7 separate regions of the Homo sapiens genome follow, and regions 1, 2, 3, 4, 6 and 7 are each linked to region 5. Evidence: fine-mapped expression QTL. A gene starts in region 5. Each other region holds a variant in brackets. All regions are shown on one strand. Distances are from middle to middle.

The links.
Region 1: its variant is fine-mapped to the expression of VWDE in whole blood (TOPMed, PIP above 0.99).
Region 2: its variant is fine-mapped to the expression of VWDE in whole blood (TOPMed, PIP above 0.99).
Region 3: its variant is fine-mapped to the expression of VWDE in whole blood (TOPMed, PIP above 0.99).
Region 4: its variant is fine-mapped to the expression of VWDE in whole blood (TOPMed, PIP above 0.99).
Region 6: its variant is fine-mapped to the expression of VWDE in kidney cortex (GTEx, PIP above 0.99).
Region 7: its variant is fine-mapped to the expression of VWDE in whole blood (TOPMed, PIP above 0.99).

The regions. Positions count from the first base shown.
Region 1 is chr7:12,264,824-12,269,625 of GRCh38, reverse strand. No RefSeq gene overlaps it. Among named protein-coding and RNA genes, the nearest start is that of TMEM106B, 56 kb to the right of the region's middle. The variant G/A (reference allele first, on the strand shown) is at 2,514.
Region 2 is chr7:12,362,153-12,366,152 of GRCh38, reverse strand. The region is part of intron 13 of VWDE (von Willebrand factor D and EGF domains); the gene reads left to right. Among named protein-coding and RNA genes, the nearest start is that of VWDE, 40 kb to the left of the region's middle. The variant G/A (reference allele first, on the strand shown) is at 1,565.
Region 3 is chr7:12,351,582-12,355,581 of GRCh38, reverse strand. It overlaps VWDE (von Willebrand factor D and EGF domains), which reads left to right. Exons shown (of 29, transcript NM_001135924.3): 19 at 3,869-4,000. Among named protein-coding and RNA genes, the nearest start is that of VWDE, 50 kb to the left of the region's middle. The variant G/A (reference allele first, on the strand shown) is at 1,613.
Region 4 is chr7:12,343,640-12,347,639 of GRCh38, reverse strand. It overlaps VWDE (von Willebrand factor D and EGF domains), which reads left to right. Exons shown (of 29, transcript NM_001135924.3): 20 at 3,171-3,266; 21 at 3,350-3,445. Among named protein-coding and RNA genes, the nearest start is that of VWDE, 58 kb to the left of the region's middle. The variant T/G (reference allele first, on the strand shown) is at 2,209.
Region 5 is chr7:12,402,221-12,406,968 of GRCh38, reverse strand. VWDE (von Willebrand factor D and EGF domains) reads left to right here and starts at 3,104. Exons shown (of 29, transcript NM_001135924.3): 1 at 3,104-3,310. The coding sequence starts at 3,253. LOC105375154 (a long non-coding RNA gene) reads right to left here and starts at 831. Exons shown (of 3, transcript XR_927035.4): 1 at 1-831. RefSeq lists silencers at 2,182-2,371, 3,309-3,358, 3,252-3,546 and enhancers at 2,683-3,248, 3,249-3,816.
Region 6 is chr7:12,329,591-12,334,358 of GRCh38, reverse strand. VWDE (von Willebrand factor D and EGF domains) reads left to right here. Exons shown (of 29, transcript NM_001135924.3): 28 at 791-894; 29 at 3,162-3,474. The coding sequence ends at 3,176. Among named protein-coding and RNA genes, the nearest start is that of VWDE, 72 kb to the left of the region's middle. RefSeq lists an enhancer at 4,470-4,768. The variant T/ATTTT (reference allele first, on the strand shown) is at 2,161.
Region 7 is chr7:12,440,311-12,445,112 of GRCh38, reverse strand. It overlaps LOC105375155 (a long non-coding RNA gene), which reads left to right and starts at 1,314. Exons shown (of 3, transcript XR_927036.2): 1 at 1,314-1,442. It also overlaps the pseudogene LOC100419641. The variant T/C (reference allele first, on the strand shown) is at 2,583.

The sequences.
Region 1 (4,802 bases), 140 kb after region 5:
CAGAATTGGCCTCAACTCTGCTGTCTGATCAGAGTGGGCGCTGACAGCAGGGAGAAGCTGGACAGTGGGAGCAGGCACTTCTGAGCCTGTGGTGGGATGGGGAGTCTTCCCAGGCCACCAAGAGTGCAGAGGTGCCTAGGTGTGCAGCTATGGCTTGGGCTGCCACAACTGTGCCTGGGAGGGCAGGCCTCCTGTCTGCTTCTGGCTTCCAAAAGCACAGGGGTGCCCAGGTTGCAGCCCCGGCTTAGACAGTTGCAATTGTACCTGGGGAACTTCTGCCCTGCCAGCTTGGAAGGGGCAGGGCTCCTGCTTGTCCCCGGCTCCCACTGGCTCCATGGAGCATGCAGCCCCATCCATGCCTCCTGTCTGCATTTTCCTTGCAGTGGTGGCAGGTGAGGTGCAGGTGGTGCAGTGGCCCCAGCCAACCCCTCACAAATGAACCCTATGTTCCTGAGGCCAGCCCTGCGAGTCCCTGTTGCACCTTTGCCCAGGTGCTCGCAGGCTCCCAGGACGCAGTGGGGAGTAAGATTGAGGCTGTGGCAGAGGCCCTGGGCCTGTGAGCGGGTCCTGCCTGGCTGTGCAAGGATGGGGGTGGTACAGTTGGCTGCCTTGGGGAAGTGGGACATAGGGGTCCCACTGCTGCCACCGCTGCTCCTGCAGCAACTCCTGCCACCACTGCCCATACCTCCCTGCTGAAGCCAGCATGATGGCAGCTCCATACAGCCCACCGCTGCCATCACACACATGGTGGAAAAAGCAAAGGGATAAAAAGGGCCTAGCTAGTTTCCTCAAGCCCGTTTCTAAGGGTACTAATCCATTCATCAGAGCTGACCCCACATGACTTAATTACTTCCCAAAAGGGAACAGGAACGTTCAAACCATAGCAAAGATGAAATTTGAAAGACAAGTAACACATTCCATAACAGTAGATTCAGCCTCTTGGGTAGGCAAAACTAGAATTGACCTACATGATATAGCTTGAAGGTGTCTTTCCAAAGACATTTCTTTTTACTAGTCTGTCTTAAATTCCAATTAAAAATTCAATCACACAACATATGTTTATTGATGATCTACTCCGTGTCACACATTGTTAAAAGAATAGAAAATACAACAGAGAACAAAAACAAAGACATTGCCCATTTTCCTTAAACCTTAAGAATTACCACCTGGATAAGGTTTGTCCTATATATGTCCTGCTTATGCTATTATGGACTTGATATTTTCTACTTTTAGAAATTTATGTACAAAAATTACATAAAGTTATATAATAAATCACTTCAATATGTGTTAAACAGGTAGTATTTGCTCTTAATAGAGAGTAAATGTAAATAAATTAATGCAAGGATTTCAAAACTACTTTTTTTTTTTGAGATGAGATCTTACTCTCTCCTTTACTGATTGATTGATTTATTGATTGATTGAGATGGAGTTTTGCTCTTGTTGCCCAGGCTGGAGTGCAATGGTGCCATCTCGGCTCAACGCAATCTCTGCCTCCTGAGTTCAAGCAATTCTGCTTCAGCCGCCCTGAGTAGCTGGGATTACAGGCATGCACCACCATGCCTGGCTAATTTTGTATTTTTTAAGTAGAGACAGGGTTTCTCCAGGTTGGTCAGGCTGGTCTTGAACTGCCGACCTCAGGTGATCCGCCCACCTCAGCCTCCCAAAGTGCTGGGATTACAGGTGTGAGCCACCACACCCAGCCTCTCCTTTATTAATTAATAGATGTCAGTTTATCAGGACTACAATCATGATAATTCTGAGTTTACAGAATGCTCTCTCTCTATTTAAAGGGGGAAGAGGGGAATAAGAAAGTGTTAGAGAGGTATAAAAGGACCATAAACTAGGACCTTCCCCTTCGAGTAAACAAAAAGATACTATGTGATTCATTTTGCAATAAAATTATTATCACTATGGCTTTGAGGATTTATTGTCCTATGAAATCATCTTCTTAAATACAATATATCCTGTATCAGTTACTTGTATTGTGAAAGTCACTCTAGTTTAATTGATATCATTGTAGGATAGAAAGTCTTTCCCTGAGATATTAAGAGGTTGGGTAGAGTACCATAGAGAGGAGTTACATTTCATTAAGGCCTTAAACTTCTCATAGTCTAATAAAACAGAAAATGTGGAAAGAGTTCAAAAGTGAGGAGGAAAAGGACTTACTTCACAACTTTGCCTTTGAACCTGCTAGAAAGTGCAAGATAAGGTAAACAGCAATTTCCATTTTCAAATTTACAAAACTGTTTACTTCCATAGGTAGTTAATATAGTCTCAAATTAAACTTGATTTTAGGAATTTACTTAACTGAGGTGTAACAGATAGATAGATGTACACATGCATGCATTTATGCATGTGTGTTATGAATTTATTTTCTGAGAAAATAAGTCCAACTTGAAATGGTTATTAGGGGAGAAACAAACCCTATCGCTGATGTGCTAGACAGTTTCTGTTTGCCCAACCAGAAACATTATTTATTTCCATCCTACACTGTGTTCTGGAAGACTGAACTT[G/A]TATGAATTCCATCAACAAGCTCCCTTTCCTTTGGCATCCTGTTCATTTGGACCAAAAGGTAAGCTCCAGCAGGAGAATAAACGAAGGGAGAAAAATGAGGTCTGAATGTGTTTTTTCGTTTCTGGCATCCTTTTCGTGGAAGAATGAATCTCCTGACTAAATATCTCAGTTCTTGTCAGGAATTCCTCTTAAAATAGCCCTCTCTATTTTTGTGCCACTTCTTTACTAAGGGTGGTATTAGTGCTGTAATTTATTTGTCCAAGTATAGCACTAACTCTTGTAGTTTTTCTACACCATGTCTACCTACTTGTAAATAGCCCTTGTGTTAAACACTCCTCTAATTACCTAATTTAAATGTATCATTTTTTCTTTTATCCTGCTAGGTCCCTGACTAGCTCGAACAATCTTATTAAGAACTTCATTGGTTTGGGATCAAGTATTCAGCATGTAGAATTAATCTTTCATAAGGAAACCTAGTTTTTAAAATGCCGCTTACTATAAATACCTTATACATCAGAGAAAACAGATATTCTGCACTGTCATTAAAAAACTGGATTCTAGGTGGGCATGGTGGCTCATGCCTGTAATCCCAGCACTTTGAGAGGCTGAAATGGATAAATTATGTGAGCTCAGGAGTTCAAGACCAACCTGGGCAACATGGTGAAACCCCATCTCTACCAAAACATGCAAAAATTAGCCAGGTATGGTGGCATTTGCCTATAGTGCCAGCTACTCAGGAGGCTGAGGTGGGAGGATCGCTTGAGCCTAAGAGGTGGAGGTTGCAGTGAGCCAAGATGGTACCACCACACTCCGGCCTGGCCAAAACAGAGAGACCCCATTTTCAAAAAAAAAAAAAAAAAAGAATTAAAAAAAAGAAAGAAGGAATTAAAAAAAAAAAAACTGTTCTTATTTTCAATTCCATTATATCTTACAGTCTTTTGGGAACAAAGTTATAGAATAAAACAAAAAATTGCAAAAGTAGATAAAATATTCTACTGGTTAAAATACATATTAAAATACAATTTTTCTTGTAAAAATTACTTTTAAAATTTTAGGGTTGGTTCTGGTTGTTTTGAAGTAGCTGGAAACAGATTTAAACTCGCTCATGTTGGGATACAATACAAGCTGGAAAAATATTTTAAATTTAAAAAGCAATAATTTGCAGGCACTAAGAGGCCACCATACAGAGTTATAATTCTTGAGATAAGGGAAGATGTGGTAAGTATCCACATTCACTAACTTTCTTGCTCAGGTATTTTCTGTATAACAACTGAGGAAAATAGAGCCCATTCAGATAGTGCAGTCTCAAGGCAATGAAGCCTACCAGAGAGTGCAGTTTCACTAGGTTAAAAAAAAAAAAAAAAAAAATCAAAGATCAGAGTTTAGAATTACATAGAAAACATTACTGACAGAGGTTAAAGACCTAATAAGCAGAGATACAGATGATATCCTGGATAGGAAGAAAATATTTTAACAGGTGAATCTTCCCTAAATTGGTCTATAGATTCAATATCATTTAAAAATTCTGCATTTTTTTTAGTGGAAATCAAGATTATTCTAAAATGTGTGTGAAGAGTAAAATGTATGCAGGGGAATAAGAAGAGTCCAGTAATGTTGAAGAAGAACACAGCTGTAAAACTCAACACTAACAGATACAAAGACCTATTATAAAGAGACAGTAATTAAGACTGTAATATTGGTGCAAGGAGAGTCAAATAAACCAGTGAAAAGGATACATAGTTCAAGCCCGGTGCGGTGGCTCATGCCTGTAATCCCAGCACTTAGGGAGGCTGAGTTAGGAGTTCGAGACTAGCCTGGCCAACATGGTGAAACCCCGTCTCTACTAAAAATACAAAAATTAGCCAGGAATGGTGGTGGGCACCTGTAATCTCAGCTACTTGGGAGGCTGAGGCAGGAGAATTGCTTGAACTCGGGAGGTGGAGGTTGCAGTGAGCCAAGATGGTGCCACTGTACTCCAGCCTGGGTGACAGAGTGAGACTCCGTCTCAAAAAAAAAAAAAAAACAAAAACGTGTAGGTAGTCCAAAAATAGACCAATATAATAACATCTGCACCTGATTTATTTAGTCCAAAAATAGACCAATATAATAACATGGGCACTCAATTGCAAGTCAAGGGAGACATAACCATCTTCTCAGTAATGGTGTTGGGTCATTTGTATTACGCATTTTTTTTAAGGACATGGGCCTTTATACCACATAAAACTACTTTGAAGATGGGGCAAAGACTTATATTTGAAAGCTAAAATAGTCAACATTCTCCAAGAAAA
Region 2 (4,000 bases), 40 kb after region 5:
TTCCACATGGCTGGGAAGACCCCAGGAAACATAAAATCATGGCAGAAGGCAGACGGAGGCACCTTCTTCACAAGGTGGCAGGTGAGAGGGAGTTAAGAGGGACGCTGCCACTTTTAAACCATCGAGATCTCATGAGAATTTCCTTACTATCATGAGAGCAGCATGGGAGAAACTGCCCTCATGATCCAGTCAACTCCCACTATGTCCCTCCCTCGATCCCTGGGGATTACAATTCGAGATGAGATTTGGGCGGAGACACAGAGCCAAACCAAATCAAAAACTATAGAAAGAAAGATGTTCACTTGCCCAAACTAAAATTAGAGTGCATATCCGTCTTTATTTTACATTGTGCTGAAGTTAAGTCTGTCTCTCCTAGCGCCAGTCTTGCCCAGTGCTGGGTTTTAAAGGCTCTTCTAGCCTTTAATTCATACCTCCAGTCAAGTCTGTTTAATGTGCCACTATTTTAGGATCCCCAACCCTACGAACATGGGCCCTGCTCAAAGCCTTGCATTCACTTTGTGTGGAATGTGCTCGCCCTGCCACTAAGCTAATGTCTTCTCCTAGCTCCCCTATTACATGTTCAGTCAACGTGAATCGATTCCTGCTCACCTTCTTAGTTCAAATTTCAGTTCCCTTCGAAGATTGGGTTCCTCTTTAAAATCTAGCATTTTGGAAATCAGGTCATGCAAAATCCTTAATGACTTCCCATTTTACGAAGTAATTTTTAAAAACTTTTATTTTGGAATAACTTGATACTCACAGAAAAATTGTAAAAATAATGCAGTTTCCAGTAATTCTTCACCCAGTTTCTCATAAAGTTAATATCTTATTTATAAACCATATTCATAAAATAATTATTCAAATCAGAAAATTCACCTCGATACAATACTATTAACAAATTTACAGACCTTGTTCTGTAAATTTACCAGTTGTCCAACTAATAATGGTCCTTTTCCTGATTCAGGATCTAATTTAAGATTTTATACTGCATTTTGTCATGTTTCTTCAGTCTCTTTCGTATTGTGACAGTGCTCCATCTTTCTTTATCTTTTGCACACTTGGCTCTTTTGAATATTGTGACGGTGCTCCATCTTTCTTCATCTTTTGCACACTTGGTTCTTTCGAAGAGCACTGGCCAGTTATTTTGTGGAATGTTCCTTTTTTATGGTTAGATTGAGGTCATGCCATGTTGTACAATTTTTAGTGCATCCTTTCATGATGCAATGTATCTAATCACGGGCAATGTAAATTTTGATCACTTACTTAAGGGGTTTTTGCCATGTATCTTCACTTTAAGCTCCCTGTTTTTCCCTTTTTAACTAATAAATACGTTGTAGGGAGACACTTTTAGATTATGCAAATATATGATAGCTCCTCAAACATTTTCTTCCTAATTTTAGCATCCAACTATAATTTTTGCTTGTAGCAATTATGACTATGGTATTTACCAGTGGTGATTTTCTATTTCCATCATTTCTTCTACACATATTATCTGGAATTCTACTGAAAGGAAGAGCTGTTCCTTGTTTCCAATTTATTTATTCATTTATTTACTCATGCCAGT[G/A]TAGACTAATGGAAACTTATTTCATGAATTATAACTCAATGCTATCATTCTTTATTTGGCTGTTTAAATTATTCTAGCTTTGACCATTGGGAACTATTACAAATTCGTTCACACGTCCTTTTAACTTGCTCCCATAATTTTTTGAACAATTTATCACATTCTGGCATCATATGATATTCCAGACTCATATTTTTCCTACCCCAACTCTAGAATCAACTGTTTCTCTAAAGACTGTAGTTCCATTTATCAAAGAGGGTCATTTAAAATCCAAGACTTGGGTGCAAGGTGTGCTTCTTGTTACAGGGTAGTTAATCCTTCTTGGCCCTTTTAATGGATACAGTTAGAAAATCTATGTATGTACACTTATACACACACGTAACTACCTATCTATCGGTTTATCTATCTGTCATCTCTGTGAGTTGATACTGATACTTCTGATTTCAGTGCAGTGCCATAAGGTTCATTCTAGCCTTCTCCTTTCCTTATTTGTAACTCTTTTCTTTACAAGTGAAAACTGGCTCTCATGATCCACAATATATTTACCTGGTTTCTCAATCTAAATGTATATGTAAGTCAGTTTCAGAAATTCTAAGCCTTTCCTCTGTAAAAAAACAAATTCATGAAACAAGGTCACAATATAAAGGCAGATACTGCTTTCCAAAGTGAGTTAGATTAACTATTTTCCACTCTGTTTAGAGTGGTTATCTGTTTTATTTATAATACAACTAGGTTTTAAAAATATTTGTCTTCCATTTTGAGTTTCTTCCACACTCTGGTTGATTATAATTATTTAATTATTTGGAGGGTATATGAAATATTATAGTTCTAAGAGTTGAAGCTATACAAAGGTATGCACATAGAATTGTTACTTTCTTGTCATCCCTGTCATCTGCTTTCCATCACTCCTTCTTTTCATTAAAGTATGTTTCTACTGTCATCATTTTCTGGTTAATCCTTACTATATTTCTTTGGTACAAAAAATGGATAGAAACTCTTTTTTTAATATAAAGTGTAACATATTTTACATGCTTTTTTCTACTTTTGTATTAGTAGTTTTAAGCAAGTCTTTAGCTAGAGATTCAACCACTTAAGCATTTCTTTCACTTCCTCCCCCAAAGCAGTCAAGACTCTACAAAATCCAATTTTAAGGTTGCTGATTTATAGGATTAAATACAGGATGTTAACCAAGAAATGGATGGCACATTATGATTTAGCTCTTGTCTATATTTGTAGGCTTGAACTTCCTGTTTATGCTGTTCCATGCATCCCTGTCTTTTTCATACACTATTCCCTCCATTCATGTGAATTGCACTCTTTCCACTTCTGCTCCCAGTGTCCAAATAGCAGTCTCCCTTTTTATTTTCAGGAAGAGAAGTGTTTGCTTTTTTGAAGGCTTCTTTGACTGTGCTAGTTAGTTAGACTTAATAACTCCTTTTGTATTATATCTTATTTGAGTCTCTTTTAATGCAATAATACAATTATATATTGTCTGTCATTTTCTTTGTGATCTTTTTTCACTGAGATATTTTCAGCACATAATATATACTCACAAAATATTGATGAATGAAAAGGAAATAGAACACTGTATATTCCTCATTTTGGGTAGGCCCCTTGAAATAGAAAGTTGGGAATAATCTCTATATTGCCAGTCATTAGCTGGAGCTTTCTTTCTGCACAAGAAACCGAGACTGTACATTCACCTAAGTGTAGATATCATGACTACTCTGAGAAATCATCATTCTTCTTCTACAAGAGGGAAACCACTGGTAGATCTGCTAGGCTAGACTCTCCATACTCCCTTAAATATGGAGATTTGCAGCTCACTCTTTCAATCATCAAATCTTCAAAAACGTAATTTCTGTTAGCTGCAGATTAGGGTGATCATGTTTTCCTTTCCCTTTCCTGCTGACCCACAATATTGAAGCATCAGCATGCTCTATGACAAATTCTGAGTGGTTGAAAACATTTGACAGTAATAAGTTTCAAAGAAAAATCTAAATCTAAATTTTGACAGCAAAATATAGCTTTTGGTTTCCTACGTAGTTATCCGTACCTGGAACATTATGCTGGCTTCTCTTCTTTTGGGACCAGTGCATTTTCATACTGAAAAACAATACTAAAAGTGTAGCTTAAGCATAATGTGTCACTGAGTTATTAAGTAGAGTGAACTAAGTAGAGTTTATTTAGTTTCAAATTACTAATAAACTAACTTGAGCAAAAATATTTATTATGAGGATAGTATATTTCTTAGAGAATCAAGAATAAGAAAGTAGCTGAATTCTCAAGAAAAATCTTGAACTTGGGACTTGAACACCATGAAGACTCAGTATGTGTGCATTTTTATGTGTGTGTGTGTGTGTGTGTGTGTATGTTTGTCTCAATTTGGCTTTTGTTTGTGGGCTTCATTTTCCTGTTTCACTATATACTGGCTTTCTC
Region 3 (4,000 bases), 51 kb after region 5:
TCATATGAATATTTTCTGTACATTTAATAGATGTAAATATTAAATAAGTAAATATATAGTTAATGAGCTGATATTTTTCTTGAAGATACCCATTTTAACAATACAGTAGAACTGAGCAGAATATTTATGTGTCTTCTAATTTTCTTCAGCACTTTTTTTTTTTTTTGAGACGGAGTTTCACTCTGTCGCCCAGGCTGGAGTGCAGTGGCGCCGTCTCAGCTCACTGCAAGCTCCGCCTCCTGGGTTCACGCCATTCTCTTGCCTCAGCCTCCCGAGTGGCTGGGACTACAGGCGCCCGCCACCAGCCCGGCTAATTTTTTTGTATTTTTAGTAGAGATGGGGTTTCACCATGTTGGCCAGCATGGTCTCAATCTCCTGACCTCGTGATCCGCCCATCTCAGCCTCCCGAAGTACTGGGATTACAGGTCTGACCTCTTCAGCATTTTAAAACAAAAATTTTATCATTGGGAACTATGAATGTAGATCTCTTTTCTACTTCACTGTAGACTCTATTTGAAAGAATTCAAATGTTGATTGCCTCATAAATTTTAGTATAATAAAGGCTACCATCCACGTATGACTGAATTTACTCGTTCAGATGAGTTGTTAAGCATTTCAAAGAGCACCACATCAACTCAAAAACTTTGATTAAGGACGGACTGACTTTCCTAACACAAACAACTTTCATGAATTTTTATAACTAGACTAAACAATTTGTCCTTAAGCTAAACAGACAACCATCCTAAATAACTTTTAAAAATTACTGACTTTTTAAACAAAGTTCAAATTACTGCTGTAATATGAAGCTTTTTGCCTTAACTATTAATGGAGTTCTTAACTCATCTTATTTACAAAAACAAAATCGTATGTACTTGAAAGGTCTGGTTTAATATTAAATTGAATGTAATTAGTGACTTTATATTTGATTATACAGTAAGTTTTAAAAACAGCATACTTCTGTCCTCATAATGCATAGCAGCTCTTTTGGGGTTAGAAGGACAGACATAAAAAGTAGAAGTTATATAATAAGACAATTGGACATACGATGTTTTTCAAATTAAATAATCTGAGCTCTTGATCTATATTTTATACAGGCAAAAATTGCCAGGAAGATGTTGATGAGTGTGACTCCAAGCCTTGCTTTGAGGGAGTAGCATGCCTGAATACCTTTGGTTCCTATCATTGTGGTTCATGTCCAGAAGGATTTTATGGGGATGGAAAAATATGCCATGGTAAAAGTTTCTATTTTCTGCTATGAGATTTTTTTTGCTGCAGTTAATTATTTTTTAATAGCATAGTTTCTGTTTTTGACTCATGTATTTATTTAGTGTAAATGCATTAAGTGTCATGCATTGAACTAGATACAAAGGATGCAAAAATATATAAGACATGTTTTCTGACTTAATAGGTAGAGTGTAACAGCAGGGAATATGACTAGTAATTACAGAGTATAATAAAGTGTTCTGTGTCTTTTGATAGAAATCACAAAAGGGCTAGTAGGAATACTACACAGGGAATCTTATCTACCTGGAGAAATAATGAAAAAGTTTTAAAAAAGGAAGCGACTAGACTATACTAGACACATGAGAACTGAATCTGATAGATCAAGAGA[G/A]AGAAAGGCATTCCAGGCAAAACCAACAGCAGGAGCAAAGGGACAGAAGCAGGCAACATCACAGCACTCCTTGGGCAGCCAGCCACTGTGAATAGTTCAGTGTGCCTGGAATATAGGAAGAAAGGGGAGCTGCTACAAGAGTTGGAGCTAGAGAGGTAAGCAGTAGCAAGACCACATAAAAACCATGGAGACTCTCTTAAAATTTTGAAGTGGGAGAGAAAGACAATACAGTTTACATGTGAGATAGTTTAAGGAGCAGTGTGTAGGATGGACCACTTGTGGGTAGGGAACTGTGTAAATCTGAAGGTGGGAAGAAGAGTTAAGAAAATACTTCAAATATATAGGAAAAAAGATGAAGATATATTAACCTAAGATGAAGATGAGGTAATGATGAAAGGGATAATAAAGAAGCAAGTTGATTGTACTTGGCCAGTGATTGGTTTTAGCATGATGAGAGAAAGAGATTCATTAAGTTTTAAGTGTTTGATTTTAGTGAATGGGTGTGTAGAATTTGCATTTGCATTGCTGTGGATAGAACTGCGTCCCCCCAAAATTTATATGTTGAAGCCCTAACTCCCAGTGTGGCTATATTTGGAGAAAGGAAGTAATTAAGGTTAAATGAGGTTATAAGGGTGGAGCCCTGATCCCACAGAATTAGTATCCTTATATGAAGAGACACCAGAGAGCTTGTGATGTATAGACAGAGCAAGAAAGTGGCCGTCTTCAAGCCAGGAAGAGAGCCCTCACCAAAAACTCAGTCAGCTAGTTTGATCACTTTGGTCTTGGATCATTGAGCCTCCAGAATGGCAAGATAATTTCTGTTGTTTAAGCCCCGCAGTCTGTGGTATTCTGTTATGGCAGCTCAAGCTGACTAAGACACACAAGCAACGTAATGGAAGAACAAGTTTTTTTGGAGGGGAATTATAATGAATTCAGTTTGGATGCACAGAAACTAGGGTTACTATGGAATATCCATGTAAGCTCAGAAAGGAGGATTAAGTTGAAAATATAAATCTTAGAATAATCAGCTATGTCATAGAATTGTCCAGGAAAACCCTTAGATTTAGAGGAAAATGGACAAAAAAAATTGGTGGGCATCAACATTTTAAAAGATTAAAAGAGAAAAAACTAAGTTATAGAAGACAGTGTTGAAGATCCATACCTTTGGTTTAATTAAGTGAATGGGACCCTTTTTGATGACAATTATGTACTAAGGAAGCAGCAGCATCTTGTGCTTCAAATTGGGCTGAGCCTGCCCAGCCCCACAGATATGAGCAACACAGTATAGGATGGTAAGGGGAATTCTCTACTTCTGCTTCTCACATTTACTCCTGAATATCCCATCCCTAATATTCACACCTTCCATTGTAATAAGTGATCTAGCCGTTTTCTTTCCCAAACAGACCCATTTCTTCAATAAAAACTTCATTCAGTGGCATTTAAGAGAAAAACAAGTTGAACCAAATCCCCTTACACATGAGTGACTAAATATGTTTCTTAACATTGTCAGAGTCATTTGTGTATTGTAGGAAGGGGCTTATTAATACAAAAGGACTTTTGGTTGTTGGTGGTGTTTTCTTAGTTTTATGATAGGTACCAGAGTCAATGGATAGCAACATGAATAAAGCACAGTTATTCTTGAGGTTATTGCTAACTAGTGGGGCACATAAGAATCAATAGCATGAAGGGCAAAGTTCTGTGGGAGAACCCAAATGGGCAAAATTGATCGGGTGGGTGAATTCAACTGAAGGAAGGTACGTTAGCTTGGGCTGCTATAACAGATTGAGGGGCATAAACAACAGAAATTTATTTTCTCACAGTTCTGAATGCTGAAAGTTCAAGATTAAGGTGCGAGTAGGGTTGGTTTGTGGTGAGATATCTCTGGTTTGCAGACTGGCTATGTTCTCACCAGGTCTTCCCTGCATGTGTGGTATCTCTTCCTGTTTTCGTGAGCACACCAGTCCTATTGGATTAGGGTGCCACTCTTATGATCTCATTTTATCTTATTTACCCCCTTAAAGACCCTGTCTCCAAACATGTTCACATGTAGGAGTAGGGATTTAACATATGAATTTTAGGGGAACACAATTCAGTCCATACCAGAAAAGTGTGCAGAAGAGATGACATTTAAGTGAGTTATTCAGTCTAATTTGCAGAGTTTAATCCAAGTGGCGTTTGTATTGTATATTCTTATTTGTGGTGCTTTGGTTGTCTAATAGTTTAAGTCTAATCTGTTTTCCTTGTTCTCATTTACAGTTGAAACACAGTTTGTAAATCAATTTACTACACAAACTGTGGTTCTCACAAGATCTGATAAAAGTGTAAATAAAGAAGAGGATGATAAAAATGCCCAAGGGAGAAAGAGGCATGTTAAGCCAACAAGTGGAA
Region 4 (4,000 bases), 59 kb after region 5:
GCCATTTTCACGATTAAATATCATATATTTTATTTAAAGTCCCTTATATGTTGAGATATATTTCTGAGCTTTCTGTTATGTTATTATTTTCTAATAGTCTTTTTTATGCCAATAATACATTGTTTTTGATTAGTGTGGCTTTATACTACATTTTAGTATCTGTAAGGCCAATATCTTCTCATGATTCTTGTATTTTGTAATTTTTATGATATCTCTGATATATACCTTCATAGGAACATTGAATCATTACATTTCAAAAGAAAAAATGTGCTTTACTAACATACATTTGCTAACATATGCTCTTTTCTTACTTTCTTTAATGGTAATTTTTGTAATCTGGAGTTTCAGTTCTTCTCTGCTTCTTTCTCCAATTCTGACAATAAAAACTCTCCTAAGGAGAAGGTTCACTTAAAACAATTTGGTTCTGGAAGGAGTCCCTTCTGTGTACAGAGGCTGAGGGAATGGGACACTGACTTGGCCCAGATCATCTAAAGCAGTTCTTCTGGGGACTGCTAGTCCAGGGCACTTTTGCTGTATTTTTTGACACAACTGTGCTTACCTCACTGCCCTTATTTATGTTTGGGGCTATATTTGGTGCACTCTTGTTTCTATTAGTCTGAACCCATATGCTTTTTATGTTTCACGAAGTCCTCACATTTTTCAAAAATCTTTCATTGCACTTGTTGCCAACTATGTTAAGGATTATTTTTGTTGTTTTTGGTTCATTTTCTTCTGTCTTTTTCTGGTTTTGGTTTGATTTACATAAAATCTTAATGCTTTGAGAAGCATTAAGTGTTTTTTATATTTTAAGACCTTTGAGAAGAGCTTTGCATGAAGACAGTGCAAAATCAAATCCTAAATTTGCAATAGAAAGCATAACAAGAAAAACGTATCTAATCACTGCTTAAAATGTGTTCATACTCTAAAACCCGTTAGATTTTTCCATACCAAAGAAGTAAAAAAGTGCAATAAGGAAATGAAGTATTTTGGCAGGTGAAATAAATAATGATCCCCCCCGCCCCCGCCAAAAAGATGTGTAAAAATGTTTTAATTTCTAGCTGAGCAGTCAAGAAAGATGGGGACATAAAATCTGATTTTATCACATTTGTAAAATTATTAGACCTGTGGTTCTTTGCCTCTCATATAAAATAGCATTTATATAATTTCCCAATTTTTGCTTATACATTTAGTTCCTGTCTTCTTTATAGGGAAAATTACTTACTCTTCTGTGTTTCTGTAGGTTTCATTTTATATTTATCACTCTTGTAGTAGTTCTCAATGATTGTTTCATAGTGAATGGCTCACATGTCTCTATCCTTGACAATATTCTAAATTGCTCAGGCATAGGGGCTGTGCTTTCCTTTGTTTTGAGGCTCATGTGTATGAGGTGATCAACAGGTGTTTGTTAGCCATTTCAAAATCTTAATGAAATAAATTATTGTACTTTGACTTTTATACTATTTAACATTCTGGGTTATCTTGTGTACCCCAAAAGATTATAAGCTCCTTGAAGGCAGAAACAGTGTCATGATTTCTTGTTAGTACACAGCTCCTACTACAATGTTAGACATGTGTAGATACTAAATGAAGGAATGAATTACTTAATGTAAAATATTTCAGGTAGAGAAGACTATTTATAAATGCTATTGACTAACGTTTTTTATTTTTTGGTTGTGTAGCTATAAATTTTCAGCCACCATCAACAGAATATTCACTAATTAGTACAAGATTTACTCCTACTCCCGCTACTATCAAAAAGTTACTGAGCACAACTAACAACATCTCCCGCTCATCACTGAAATTAATTACAGCCCAAATGGATAATTCAGTAAAGCCTATTTCCCATCAGATATCAGATATTGAACATGTGGATCGTAGTCTCAGTACAAATCTCAGTCTGGGTGAGTTGGAAGTTTCTGTGAAGAACAGTAGCTCTTTAAGCAGGAACCCAAACAACACCCATGGCAAAGCAAATGATGATATCCAGAACACCATCCAAACAGAGACAGGAGGGTATATTCTCAAATTAGCAGGTCTTCCCAAGGTTACACACAGTATGAAGATGAGTTTGTGTCATCTATTACAAAAGCAATTGCTATTTTGCCAGAAAAGTTTGGATCAACCAAAATATCACCTTGTGCTGGCTAGCCTTGTTTTCTTGGTGTTTCCTGTGTGCCAAGCTCAGATGGTCACTTCCAATGTGGACGC[T/G]GCCCCTTTGGGTATTATGGAGATGGTATCAATTGCAGAGGTAGTATGAAACTCTTCAGAAGATACAAAGAAAATTATCTAATTCAAGTTTAAGTTATTAAAAAGATATGCTTTTCCATATACTAATTTCTATTTATTCTGCTTAGTTCACTTATTTCCGTTTATTTTATTTATTGATCATTTATACTGTATTCTCATCACATTTTGAAAGAACAAAAGTGGGTCTGCTGAGTTATTTATTAAAATCATGTTAATATTATAGAGTATTACAACTATATAATATATATTACAAATATATTTGAGTACTTTCTGTGTTCCAGGGTCTGTGGAAACATTTTGTATCAACTGTGTCATATTATCCACATGAACCCCACAAATTGGGTATTATTTTTCCCATTATACAGATGAGAAAACAGAGTTTTGGAGTGCCCACTGAATTTCCCAGCATTAATCAGCTAAACAGATAAAAGATGTCAATATAGATCTGATTAACATTGTGGTCTGTATTCTTTTCAGCTCACGGTGGGCATTTGGCACTTCAAATACTAATTCTGGCATATTTGCTTATTTGCATGAACTAGGTTTCTCTGTAATCTTTCCAACTCTTTCGAGATTACAGCAAGTTATATATCACTTTAATTTTAAAGGCATTGTTTCTATCTTCTCACAATTATTAACATTGTTTTCTCTGATGAAAATCAACTTTTTGGCTTTGGCAACATAGAAGCTGTCTTGTGTTACTGTTGTGTTACTGTTTTGCTTTGTTTGTGTTTTGGCTTGTTTGAGACTAAACTTAAGCAAGAGAGTTGTTGGAGTATTCTTACGTTCTCAGTATTATCTAGAGGGACTATTAGTTAACTATTCAAACTTCAGAGACTTTTGCTTCTATCATAACTAAGTCTCTGAGCAATATGTATGTTCTGTTTTAGCAATCAACCTTTTTTTCTTTGATTTTTTTTTAGCCATTTGTAAATATCCATGTGGAAAAAGTAGGGAGTGTGTTGCCCCAAACATCTGCAAATGTAAACCTGGTTACATTGGTTCTAACTGCCAAACTGGTAGGTAACATCATTCATTAGTTTGCATGATAAATTGTATTTGGTAATTGATATGTCTAAAACTTGGGCTTTATTTTATACAGCTCTTTGTGACCCTGATTGCAAAAACCATGGAAAATGTATTAAGCCTAACATTTGTCAGTGTCTTCCAGGACATGGTGGAGCAACCTGTGATGAAGGTGATAATTCAAATTAAAAATCAAATATAAGGCCTAAAATATAGCATAATTTTCTTTAAAAACCATTTTACAAGACAATTCAGTTTTACTGTGTATATATTAAAATATTCTTATCAAAGCTGGTATAGGACTCTACATTTTAAAATACTTATTAAATATAATTTATTCAAAGATTCTAAAGAATTAAATTTCTGAAATCAGAGATTCAAGGGGCAATAGCTTATTTGTTATTGGTAAAATTACCCTCTGAAATGATTTGAGGTTTAGTTATAAGGTACTATATATCTACAAATGTTTTAGCTTCAAGCAAAGACAGCTATTGAATGATCTACCAAATATGGTTCAAATAAAGTGTTAAATGCCAAATAACTAGAAAATGTAAAGTAGTAAGAAGAAACCTAAAAAGTGAATTTGTAAAAATACATCTGTAGCCATATAATTGCATTGCTTTGGTTTAAATCTTAAGCGGAAAATTTATGAAATAGCATTCCTAAAGTGGATGATACTTTAAAGAAATAAGTTGTTTATTTTAAAATAATATGTGAAAAGGTAGTT
Region 5 (4,748 bases):
GTACTTGTGTTCAGCTCAAGTAAACCCCAGAAGCAATCCTATCAATTTTACATTTCTGGAAAAGGGCTCACTCATTTAGTAAAACATGGGATGAGGAATTCATATGTTACATAAATATGTATTTTCCAGGAAGGTTACTCCAAACTGTGCAGACACTGTAATAGAGTAGTGCCAAGAAATGATGCACCTTTATATAATAAGACATAAGAGAAAGTATAATTATGTAGAATATTACCCTAGTTCTAATAACAGTAAACTGTTACATTCGACCATAATAGCTACTTTGGACCAAATGCTATTCTGAGTGCTCTTTCTCCAGATGCTCTTCCACGCTCCCAGCCACACACAGGCATGCACATACACTTTTGATTCTTTAAGTCTATGGGGTACTATTATTGTCATTTCTATTGTACAGAAAAATGAGGTTAAGAGGAGTTGAGTGTGCTGTTCAAGGTTACACTTCTGATAAATAGGTAGCAGATCTAGAATTACAGCCCAGGTGTTTTTAACCTAGGATTTGTGGACTTAATCACTGGGTTTTTCTGCCCCTTGAATTTGGTATTTTTTTTCACTCAAGCCCATCACTTTGTAAATTAACCTGACAAAAACTGAGTTATCTCCTTTTCCTAGAAAATTATCATTTGAAAATTTTCTCCTGTTAATCTTTTAATTTAAGCTATATTGTACTTATTAGCACTTGGCTTCATTTCTTCTTCCCTCTGACATTCTTATTATTTGTCTCAGTGATATTTACTGCATTTTACAAGTGCTGTCAGTCTCTATATTGCGGGGTACCATGCATCCATTGTTTTTAATGTTCAAAAATATAAAAAAGAATCTTATACCAATTTTTGATTAACTTCACGAGACATAGATTAAAACATTTTCATTACTTTTTGTTTTCCATACAGTTCTATAACTAATTTTTTTTTTTTTTTTTTTTTTTTTTGAGATGGAATCTTGCTCTGTCGCCCAGGCTGGAGTACAGAGGAGCTATCTTGGCTCACTGCAACCTCTGCCTCCTGGGCTCAAACGATTCTCCTGCCTCAGCCTCCCGAGTAGATGGGACTACAGGCGAACGCCACCACGCCCATCTAATGTTTTGTATTTTTAGTAGAGATGGGGTTTCACCATGTTGGCCAGGCTGGTCTTGAACTCCTGACCTCAGGTGATCCGCCTGCCTCGACCTCCCAAAGCACTGGGATTACAGGCGTGATATAACCAGCATTTAATTGATACATTCTTGCAGATCCAAGCCAGGTTACTGAGACTTGAAAAAAAATTCTTAAGTTGCTTTTAGTTTTTTCCATCTTTAGTCACATGGAGGGAAGTTGGGTTTTGGCACAAGTTTATTGTAAACTCATAAACTCATAAACAATCAAAAACTGAAGAAAAAAATAAGGCCCACGATACCTGAAATTGTATTTTGATGGAAGTCAGATAAGTAATGTTGTCCTCCAAGAAAGTATAAAAGTTTACTACATTTGTATAGATACTGCTAGAAAATAAATTCACAAAAGTCCTGCTATGATTTGATTCACATCAAATTACTTTGTTCCTGGTGATTTCACAAATAGATTGAGAAAACTGACATTTAATTTCTTGTCTGTTTTATTAGAATTTTTTAAGCGGAAACAAAAGACTTAACTGTACACTAAGAAATCTCTGGGTTTTCATTGTGCCTACATTATATTGCCCTTCCATACTTAAGCCTTAAGATAAAAATCACCTGTCTACCGTCCACCAAAAAGTAATATTTTATTTTTAATCCAGAAAATTGGGTGCCCTTGCTGCATTTGAAAGATGGCTACACACAAGTATTGTGTACCAAAAAGAAATTATTTCCAATATGGGTTAATATTTTTACTATGGAGATGATAAGCTTTAAAATTTTAAATGGTAATTTACCTTTCAAATTAAAAATAAAGAATTATATGAAATTAAAAAAATACTTGTTTATGCATTTGGACACCTCCTGTTTCCACCACCATGCCTAGGCCAACCTTGAACCTCCAAATTTGTGGGTGGAACCTTGGTGCCCACTTGGACCCCCAAACTATCCTCTTCAGGTAAAGGCTCTGTGAGAACCAAGTGCAAGGTGATGGATGGGAGACTCAAGGAATGAGACAGCCAGGGAAAAACTAGGACAGTGAGGTTTCATTTTCAGACATAAAAAGATGTAGAATCAGTTGAAAAAAGGACCCTGTTCCTCTGCAGAGGCAACCACACTTCTGAAGACCTTAGACCTGGCACGGTGGCTCACGCCTGTAATCCCAGCATTTTGGGAGACTGAGGGGGAAGATCGCTTGACGCCAGGAGTTCAAGGCTCCAGCGAGCTGTGACTGTGCCACTGCACTCCAGCCTGGGTGACAGAGTGAGACCTTGTCTCGAACAAAACAAAACAAAACAAAAACGAGGTTGGGGGAAGACATTAGAGCCCTCTGATCTTCTAATAACTCCCAGGTCAACCTTGGGAGTCGTGTGGCCATGTGCTAAAGCGTCCTGGGACAACTGTAAGAGCTCTGGGAATCACTGGCAAATACAGGTGACAAACCTCATGGTTTGGCTAGTGTCTAAATGCGGTCCTTTCCACTTCTGAAAACCTGTCACAGAGGCAGAAGAAAAGGCATCTACTGTTGCAACGTTAGTGTCTACTCCTCCTCCTGTCGTTCATCACTGAGATCTAAGGTGACAGGAGCATTTTCAGCGCCTTCGCCTTGGGGTGCAAACCAGTAGCGCCCATTACGCAGTTAGGAATCCGTCTGCAGATACAATCATGGGAAACTTCCCCTTCCAACGGAACCTTGTGAGGCTTCTTTTATGCGAGGTCCATCTGAGCAGTTTCTAGGATTACCAAGTTTTCATACAGCCTCTGTTAGAACAGCAAGACGCAGCGGGCGGAGAGCTACATCCCTGTAGCTTGACTCCTGGCTGTGCGACTGCACGGTGACATCCAAGGCGGCGGAGCCACTGCCGGTACACGCTGGGCTATGGGGACAGGTTGGGCGTGGCTTTCAGGTCAGCCAGCAGCCAAAATGGGAAGGGAGGAGTCGCAGACGGATTACGCGAAGGCTCTATCCCACGAAAGGACTGGGTGCACCCCAGAACGAGGACGCGGAGCTTCCCTGTTCCAAGCAGCAACAGACTGAGAAAATCCAAGAAAGGAGGCCCGAGGGGCTGCTGTGGCCCCATCCTCCTGGCACCCGCGGCCCGGGCTCTGCGACGCCTTTCGCCCCACCTGCGGAAGCAGCGATGCCTGGCGGAGCCTGCGTGCTGGTGATCGCGCTGATGTTCCTGGCCTGGGGGGAAGGTAAGCGAGGTAGGGCGCGCGGGGGTGGGCGCGCAGTGGCGCCGCGTGGGCGGTAGAGGGACTAGGCTAGACTTTTTGGACGACTTGGGGAGCGTCCCTGTGCGTTTTAAGGCAGCAAGCGATGTTTGTTCCTCACCCGCCTCCTCTCTGTCCCTCTGCTGTCTTTGAAAAGGTCAATTTCCAGCTTGAAAACTCTACACTTTTCTTTTGCGCACATGCGGTTGTTGCCTCCTCTTACTCTACGACCCTTGGTTCTGTTTTTGGTTGTTTCCTGCTGTTATCCTGCTCTTTGAGGTCATTGTAATTTACTGTAAGAAACTTTCGCCGGATCTGCAAGGTATGCTAGCCGCAAGTGGACCTGAATTCTCAGAACAGAGTTGAATTCCATACTGCACGAATTCCACCTCCAACCGGACCCTCAGAAATAATTCATTGGTGAACATTTTATCCCTACAATAAATCACCAAGTTAAGTTTTGTATATCCGTATTATACTGTATTATGGTTTTTGTATATATATGTTAGAATCAGTTTTGGCACTGTAAAAGAGATCTCTGTGGAGCGAATACTCCCCTCCTACTTCTTTAATCCATGACAAAGAACATTTAGTTTAAAATACAGTGAAGTTAAACCAAAACTACTTTCATTAGCCCTTTTTGCTTGTTTTTTGTGTTCATACAGATAGGAATATTAATGAAAGGTGACTTGTTCTTATATTGCAAGTTTCCTTACGTTTTTCAGAAAAAGTCTGATCTGTGTTCAACCATCTGCAGCTTGAAAAAACATTATGTACAACATTTATAGCAGTCCAGGGTATAGTTTTGTCTTATCATTTTTTGATCTTAACTCATTTTACTGATGTAAGTTTGCTTTGTATAAGGGGAATACAAACACTATCCTATACAAAACTTAAAAATAAAATACTAAAATCAAATTTATTATTTTCTGCAATGATATTTTTTCTGGTCCTTCTTTGGTTTGCTTACAGCGTTACTAAATCTTTATGAATAACTTTAAAAAATACATGTAATAACATATATCTGTTCATTACAGTTAGATAAATATTTCCAGGAAAAAAATGACCAATGTTTATAAAGGAAGATGATTTCATGTTTACTATAGACCGCATAACCCTTTTTTGCCTCTATATAATAGCTTTGTAATCTCTCTGCTGAAGACAAATATTACCCATTACCAGGTTTTAAGTTCATAACATTGGTAACATTGTCAAGTTCTTTATGTTTAATGGAGTAAAACTAGAAGACGAGGTAAATGGAAAATGCATTTATTGAGACTTCTTTTTTTCAAATAGCTTTATTAAGATGTTCATATACCATACAAATCACTCAAAGTGTGCGACTCTATGGTTTTTCATTTTCACAGATATGTGTATATTCAGAGTATATTTACAGGTATATGCAGCGATGACCACAGTCAAT
Region 6 (4,768 bases), 73 kb after region 5:
AACTATTATATATAATTTTGTGGTACGCTCATTTTCACTCAATATTGTTTGAAAGAATTTATGTTGTTTAAAAACAAAATTTAAAGCAATATATTAAGTTCCATAATATAAATACTACAAAAATTCCCTTTACTTCCCCTCTTATGTTTAACATTTTAGTTATTTACAAGTTATTATTAAGTATTATAAGTATTTTCTTTCTACAGGTAGATGATAAATAGATTGAGATATTGAGATATTGAGATAGATGTAGGTATTTTTAATTGCCTTGGGAAAGATTTCAAGTAAGAAATGTATGATATAGACAGCATGAGTATCTTTCAGAAATTTTCAGTAGTTATTTCACATTAAACTTCCAATGATAGTATAAAAATTGTCAAATTTTCCATACACTAGCCAGTACTGGGTTGTCTCTTTTAAATTTTTGCTTAATGTTAAAAAGTAAATTATAGATGCTATCTTCTGTTAATGACTTCAGCTCCTCTAGAAAAAAAAAGAGATATATTTCAAATACTTCAAAATGTAGCCAATGAAATTTTTGTTTCTTTTAATAATATCTTTATAGAATTCCAAAAGTGTTGTTTGAATTTTGGGTGCTTTGTTTTTGATGTGTGCGTGTGCTCTGAAAGACAAGAGTACATAGATTAGATCCATTCATTGATGGTTCATTAATAGATTCTTATGACTGCATTGGTGTCCAATCACCAGATAGCCCCAGACCACTAGGATAGAATATGCCACAAGCATTTCATGTCAAAGGATGGTCATTGTAAAAATTTGTGTATTGCAGCAATTTGCAACCCAAAATGTCTTTATGGAGGCAGATGCATATTTCCCAATGTGTGTTCCTGCCGCACTGAATACTCTGGAGTCAAATGTGAGAAGAAAATACAGGTATTTCAGAGTTTAAAGAGAAAATAAATATTAGACATTGACATTTGCATATCTCTTCTACTTAGTAATTGTTACTAATTAATGTTTTTTTATTATTTCCAAAATAAAAAAAGCATTTATTTGCCTCTAAAATTAAAAATTGTATCATTTTTGTGTTTTGGTAGAGTTATTATATAAAATTTTGATGTGTATTTAAGGAATTTCAATGTATAGATACAACTGTCCAATGTAACGCAGTATTTCATGACACTGTAGTTGAGACAGCAAATGTTCCACAATATAGATTCAAGACACTTATTTGTAGGGCCAGTGCTATAAAACATATATTTAAAAAGTTTCTGTGATCTTATTTCTTCATATAGGATTAAACTGCATTGTGTTTTGTCTCTAATCTTAAATTTCCAAATATCAACAGCCGAGATGTTATTTCAGTCCTAATTCCTATACACACAAGGGTAGTTCTAATAATCTCTCTCTCTCTCATACAAACATACAGACAAATGCAGCAAACCTCTCAAAAATGTCTTAAAGTTAATATGTAGGAGTTGTAATTTAAAAAGTCATTATATGCTATTTAGCACTTCAAAATGCCCCAGGGTCATGAATATAAAAGTATGCTGGAGTACCAGAATTTGACAACTGATTAGAAATTTTCTTCTTGAAGCTTGATATGGATCAATTTGGCTTGGAGACAAAATGGATATATGTATAGTTTTCTCCGAGCACTGGTGTCATCCTGTAGGATTGGCCCCCATTGTGAAAATAACCAGATCATAATAGGGCTATGGTTTGAAAACTGGAAAGCAAAAGTTATTGAGTACTTATTTGATTAAATATTGTTTGAGAAAAATAAAAATAAAAGCTTGAGCTTCCTTGGGTTTGAAGGCAGCCTAAGTATATATTATTTGATTTGATTTGATGTGAGATTTTTATGGCACAGAAAACCCTATGACCTCTAAAGCTTTTTAACTCCACTTTGACAGTACTAAACTAGGTGGCTGCTCTATATTCTATTTTATGTATTTATTTGCCATCTGAATCCTTCCTCATATGATCAATAGCAAATCATCTTTATCCCCATTAATGCTGCTTCTAAGAATGCATTTAAAATCACACTAAGGGGAAAAAATGCCAGAAGGCCATGGGGAAGGAAAAGGGCATAAAAGGCTAAGCATGAGGACAATATGTCCTGTTCTACTGTAACCTGCTCTCCCAAGCTTCTAACTTCAATCTCATTCTGGCTTTATTCTGTTGATCACTGGTGTC[T/ATTTT]TTTTTTTCTTTACTTGCTTTCGATATTTCTTTGTCTCCCACACATAGGTTAAAACATAAATTTCTCTTTAGTGGGGAAAAAAGCAATCACCATCCATGGGTATCCATAGAACCTTCTCCAACTCCATCCCTTGCTCCCCTCTTCCCTACCTTCCCCAAAGGAGGGTTCAGACTGGCTAACTACCTCCTGGCTCTTCCTCAGGCAACCTGAGATAGTGGGTAAAAAAAAGAAATGGAGCTTACTGATTGCATTGCTAGAATTTCAATGAAAAAGAATTACTGGCTAGAGACAAGAAACACAGAGAAAGGGAAAATAAGTAAAGGAAGAAAAAGGTGCTAAAGAGGGTGGGTTGATAAAAGGCTTTGAGAAGCATCATAACCTCCTGCTTGTGGCTGAGTGCACTCACTCTGACCCTGCCACTTATTTGCTCTGTGATTTCAGGCAAGTTTAACCCCCTCAGTCTCAGTTTTCTCATCTGCAATATGGCATTAATAGTAGCACCTAATGTTAGGCTTATTGTAAGGATTAAATATGTTAATATATGTGAAGTACCTAGAGTGGTGCCTGGGACATAACAAGCACTATGTAAGAGTTTGTAACTAATTACATCCAATAGAGGAATAGAAAGAGGTGGAGAAAGAAAAGGATGGGGAAAGACACTTCAGAGAAACACTGCAATGTGTTATGAGTATCAGTGGTTTTTTCCTGAGGGATATCAAAACATTAATTAGTTTTATTGGGCATGGATGTTTCTAAAGTGTAACATTTTGCCACGATGGAATCACCTAGTATGCAAGCTCCATTTGGTTATGACAGCTTGGACCTTAAGTATGATCTTGATTTGATTTCAATTTTATGAAAACAGTATTGAGTCTAGTGGCAAACAGAACCAAAAGAGCTTTACGTATCATGTCAGAGGGAAGGAGGCAACAAATAATGAGTAAGGGTTAAATGATTTTATACTATTCATTGAAACACAATTTCCTTCTTCCTACTACAGATAAGACGCCATTGAGTAGCATCAAGTATATGAATTACAAGCCTGTATCTTAAGAATGGAAATATTTTGTTCAGAAAAAGTTGGAGATAACTTGGAGTTTATTTGAACATCATTCAAAAAATATCTTAAAGACTGAAGAAACTAATAAAATACATAATGATCTCTGTTGTAATCATAGAGAAAAGCAAAGAAGAAATCCAGGTAATCTAAATTTGATGTTGAGATGGGATAGGATATTTACATATTGAGATGATGTATCTGATATTCCACCCATTCACAATATTTAATAAACTGAATATTTTCTCAGCCCTAACTGTGACTATGTCTGCATCATTAGGAGTCAGTCAGCCTAATGGAAGCCACTTGATATCATCCTAATAAATGATGCTTAATGCAGAACGAGGGGCTCACAGAAGTAAGTATTTGAAGAATGGGGAATGAGGGTTGGGAGCTACAGGTTAGGAAAGCCACCGCTGATCAGAGTAGGTAATAATGAAGACGTTAGCCCAAAGCTCCAAGCAGGTTCTTTTCAGAGGCTTTCCCGGAGCTGCTATAATACTTGAGAATCTTTAAAAACTACCACCAACTGTCTCAGGCAAAGTGGATTATTCTCAAAATTTTGCTAGAAAGCCACTGTGAATTTCATCTTTCCAAGCATCAAGCTGCAAACACCTCTGAAAAGACTGATGGCTTCCTCTTCATTTCCTTCTTCTGACTCTCCAGCAAATTTTTCTCATTGGCAAACTCTGACCCAGAACCACACAGGTAAGTGGATTCTGAAAAATGTAATTCCCAGCCTTACAAAAAGTGGCAGTGGTGTCCTGGGCCCAAAAGTGAGAAAACAAACACCAGACATGCTAAAAGGTCTGCATCTGATTGCTCTTCCATCTTTCCATTTTTTCTGTACCATGATCCATTTTGGTATATGAATCGAGAGAGATGATCACAAAACCAAATCCTTCTACAGATATCACAAGAAAAGTGTATCTGGATGCTTAATAAAAACAAAGTTAAATTACAATACATGAATAGTTGGGGAAGTGGGTAACAACAACAAGGAATACACATATAATTAAAAGATTTGCCTCAGAGACCCAAATAATTGCAAGTTACCTGGGGTTATAAAGTTTCCTTTTTCCTGCTATCTCATATTTTACCTCAGACATTTCATTTGACTTTCAGAAAACAAGTTATTTTAATTTGAACATGACCATCTTAAATCATATACATTTACAAAGGCTCATTTTTTTTCTTTTAAGTAGAAAGATTGAGCATTCCTAAGCCATATCTAACCTGTAAGATAAAGTAAGACGCAATCAGAATAAAAGTATTGCTACATATGCTAAGGACTCTTTAAGTATTAACATCCAATGTCAGAATTAAAGAGTTTTTAATTTATCATTTTATATTTACTAAAAGGTAGTTTTAATAGATTACTTAGGAGAACATAATATAAACCAAAAATAAAATTTAAAGCCTCCCAAACAATGGAAAGAACTCTTCTCGAGTAATTGAATTCCAAAGTAAACCTGAAACATTGGTTCAGGACATCATGGGAATGGATGATCGGACATGCCTCATTATACCCTCATCCCTTTGTAATTCAG
Region 7 (4,802 bases), 38 kb before region 5:
AGATACACATATATTACCCCAAAATGTCCCTCTTTGCCCATTTGGACTCAACATATCTCCTACTCCCAGCTCCTGGCAACTAATCATCTATTCTCTGACCCGATAGTATTGCCATCGCAACAGTGACACAGAAATAGAATCAAACAGCACGTAGCCATTTAAGTCTATCTAGTTTTACTTAGCAGAGTGCAACTGAGATTAATACTTATAAAAGTTCCATATTTGCTTTGTAGCTCTAGGACTGTCTGTTCAACAGTATTTCTTTTTGAACACAAGCTGTCAGTATTACTTTTATATATTTGCAAGAAATAAATCATTTTTTATGTTGGAGAGAGTCATGTTAAAGTTTATTAAAATACAGCTTGGCAATCACCGTGCAAGCATGAATGAAGATTAATGGGTCCAACAATAAGGGGGCATAGAGAGCAATGAATGTGACTCTGTGGAGACCACTTCTTTTGGCATGGAATTTATAACTTCTTCAACACTGGATTTATTTCTGTTGTTTCATTAAATGGTCTTGTCAGTAAGAAATCCTGGGAAAGGTATCTTAGGAAGAAGAAATAGGATAAACAAAGAAACAGCAGTATGAGGACATCTGATACATTTGACCTCACAGTGCAATACATTGTAGTTACAGAAAGAAGTATGAATGAATCACAATTCTCTAAACTGTCAAGTGAATGGATTAAGGTGGATGGTCTATAGTACCTTTTTAGCATCTGATATTCTGTAGTATAGACATAATACCACTGAGTTGTGTCCTGCTAAGCAAGTTTAATATGCAATAGATTGTAGTGTGAGTTGAAAAACAATAGACAAATTCTTGGGAACTTGTTTAATTATTATTTTTTAATTGATAGAGCCATTTGGCAATAACTGTATATCAACTTAGCTTTTCTCCTTTTTCAAAGCCATTTTGTTGATGTATGACTTATGATTAGCAGGCAAAAAGCTGGATTTTAAAAAAATGTATATGACTTGATTAATTTGGAGGTATGTATACATTTGTGAAACCATGACCAAAATCTATTTCATAAATGTATTCATCACTACCAACTCTTGTTTGTTTTAAACATTTGAGAGAAAAAATTGGAGAACAAAGTGGCTGAGTTTTTAAGCTTGGTCTCTCAGCTTAGGGGGTTGCAGAAGCAACTCTATCTACTAGGACCAATCATGGGCCTTATTTCTAACTCCACTACAACCTACTGAATAACTGTATCCATTCACACCTTTGTATTCCTTATCAACACAATTCAGAGTTTTAGCAGATTCAACTTTATCAGACCAATTTTTTTTTTAGGGTCATCAATGACTCAGTTACTGAGCCATTCCCTGGGAATAACATCTTGACTAAACATAATCTTTATCTTCAAGGACCTCTCATTATTCAGTGGAGTAAAGACACGGGGAAATGGGGAATTTTCATGCAGTCGTTAGAGGTAAGAGCTGAAAATGTTAGGTATATGGTGCTATGGGAGTCCTTGTTGGTGGGTCAAGAAAACACTGGAAAAACTAATATGTCAGCCGAGAGTTAAGCCTGAGTAGGTGATAGTCAGGTAAAAGGTAAGGAACAGAAAGCCTTCTGGCCTGGGAAGCACTATATAAAAATATGAGGAAGAGCTTGACCAGATTAGATAACTGAAAGTTGTTGAGTGTGGGAAAAGTGGTATATTCTTGTGGGAAAAAATGACAAAAATGGAGATGGGACCACTCTGAAGAGTCTTGTAGTTTTTGGGCATGGGGCTTATGCAAAGGGCAATGGGGATGAATTAGCAGCTTTTCAACAGGAATGTGGGCAAAAGCAAGAAAATAATTTAGACTGTTTGTAAACTAGATGAGAGGCTATGGTGGCCTAATCATGCAGTATCAGAAGGGAAGAAAATGAATGGAATTGAATGATGTTAAGGGAGCACAGAGGTTTTGGGGACTGCCAGACAGTGAGAGCTGCAATGAAAAGAGGCAAGGATGACTTGAAGATTTCCAGTTTAAGAGAAATGAGGGAATTATTCCTGCAATAGAAAATTATGAAGGGAAGTTTTTCAAGCAGGTGTGTGAATGGTGCAGGGTTGGACATATGCCCAGGGTTGGACATATTGTGGTCTGAGAGACCAGGGGGCAGCTCTTCAATAAGAATTTCAATCTACAAGTATGAAGTTAGGAGAGAGGTTTGAGCTGAGAGCTCTGGAAACATCATCATATAAGTGGTGACTGATTACACAAGTTGGATAGAGTCAAGTTGCTCCTTTCATTTCTAAAATCCTGTGAATGCTGCAGAGAAAGAAGGATGCTGCTGTTGCAACATTAAAGTCTTCTCCCTCCCACCTTTCTCACTGAGACCGAAGGTAGCAGGAACACCTTCTGAGAATCACGGTCATTTTCATGGACAATCAAGCACTGGAGATAAGACAGTTAAGGATGTGTGGGCAGGGATGATAGGGGCACTGTCCCTTCCAACTAATCCTTGTCAGGCTTCATCTATGGGGAGCCCACCTCTGCAGTTTCTACTACATGAGGCAAACATCAAACTTTCTGGATGAACCGAGATGTGTAATGTTTCACTTGTCAACTGACAAAGACAC[T/C]CTCCTGTATGACTTGTGCACTTGGATGTTCAGTGTTAACAATGTTGTTAACAAGAGCTACAGTCTTATTCCACCCCTCTTTTGAAAGATCTATGTAAATCCATGGGCTTGTTTGTTTATTTGTATTTATTGCAAAATAATGCCGAAGCACATATTTCTGATTCATGCTATAAAACTGGAGAGGTTTCTTCTTTAGGCCCATGGAGAAAAGCATGCAGTGCCTAGTCATGCTTATCCAATGAAGCTGATTAGGCCTGTACTTTCTTTTCCCACTAGCTCACATTTAAATTTTCATTCCTATCTAAAATTTAGTAATAGCTCAATTTATCAAGTGATTACTACATGCAGGAATGGGGATAGTGGTTTTCATTCGCTATCCCATTTCACCCTCACCATAACCCTAAGACATATATATTTATACCCTTATGTTAGAAATAAGGGAGCAAAGACACATTGGGACCTACAACTAAGACTCTGGAAAGGTCCTCCCAGCCATCAAGTCTAAGCTCTTAATTTCTGCACAATCAGATCAGACATCTCAAATCAGAAATCGCTGTATTATTGAACTATCATTTGGACACTGAGGTCACAGAAACTATGCCAGACTTACTGAAGTCATGAAGATTTCTGATCCTCCATTCCCTCATCTAGAACCTCTTCAGCAGAAGTTGCTGATTGGCAGTTGTCTTATAGTGCTGTTTCTTTGGCCTGAACAATGTTTTTGTTTTTTAATTTTTTAAAATAGTTATGGATTTAAAATATAAAGTGTATTACAAACAAAAGAAGAGCCCTTTTCTTTCCAAGGAAAAAGCAGAATGGAGTTGTTCGTGGCAAAAAAGTGAATGGAGTTGTTTATAGCAAAGTCTCAAGTGTAGGCCAAAAGGGACTGGGGACTGTGACTGAAAGAAAGAAAATAAAATTGCTCCCTCCCCAAATGCAGCCCCAAATCTGAAGATGGCTAGGTGGTTCGGAAACTATCCCCAGGTCACTCTGAGATTCACACAGCCATTGCTGAAGATGATAGATTCAAATGATGGAAGGATCTTGAGTCACTAGGTCACACGTAATAGAGTCTCCCGCACTCTGAACTGCTGGATTGTACCGAGACAAGTTGGCAACACTGGAAATCCATGAAATGTGAAGACATTTCAGGTCTGGCTGATTTCTCCCAAATTCTTACAATTGAAACCCAAGCAAGGTAATACTTTTGCTGAAGGCTTTCATTCCTCAGTGTCTGGCAAAACACAAAGGAAGGAAGGTGATTCCTCCCAGAGGAGGGAAATTGCTATGATCTTAGTAAACAGGATGGATGAGGCATCTACATCTTGTAGAAGGAACTTTCAAAATCCAGAGAAGAAAGAGCCTTACCCAGGGACATGGGCACATGAATCCACTACTGCAGTCTGCCCTACAATTATATCTTGAAAAGCTCATGTATGGAGCATGGGTTGTGACATGGTGCTGACTGGATCTCTTGGGTTCTGTAGGATCAGGTGTAGCCTCTGGTCACAGCTCACGGGCTAATCTGTTTAATCTGTTCTAGCGGTATTCAGCTCTTTCCATCCACACAATGTACTATACAAATAATAACCCTTTCTATTTTGGCAGTAACTGGACCAAAATTCATGAGCACTAGTTTATAACACAAGCTTCTTTTTAATTTCAACTCCACTGATGGTTGGTGCTGATGCCAGGTACTTGGCTTGGTTTGAGGTAGAACGCTAACAATATTCCAGACAGGCAGTTATGGTTCACCAGTTGTTGGTCAGAGGCAGAGCTGCAGTGCCCACACAGAGCCATGGAGAACCTGCCATCACCAGAAAAATGTCCTTCTGGCTAGTCCTGGAGCATCTGCAGTGTTCTGATGATGTTGTCTGGATTAATCTTCCCTTGAAAATCTTGGTATATGCAACTTTGGTTGTTTTTATAGTATATTGCTGATGTACATTGAAGGAATGCGAGCTAGCTAAAAGATTTTCTGCCCAAGTTGAAGAATACAATCATGTCGGTTTAAAGATTAGACCGAATATACATGCCTTTGAAGCCCTCAAGTCACCTGCAATGGAGACTAGTCCTCTGAACTTTTGAAATTTTGTGTTTGTCAGCACTTAATAAAGATGTGAACCAGGTCCACATTTTCACTGGAAGATACAGTAGACCTTGACAAAGAACAAGCGGGAAAGGCCTCTAAAATGTCATTTAATAGAGTGATGATGGCTC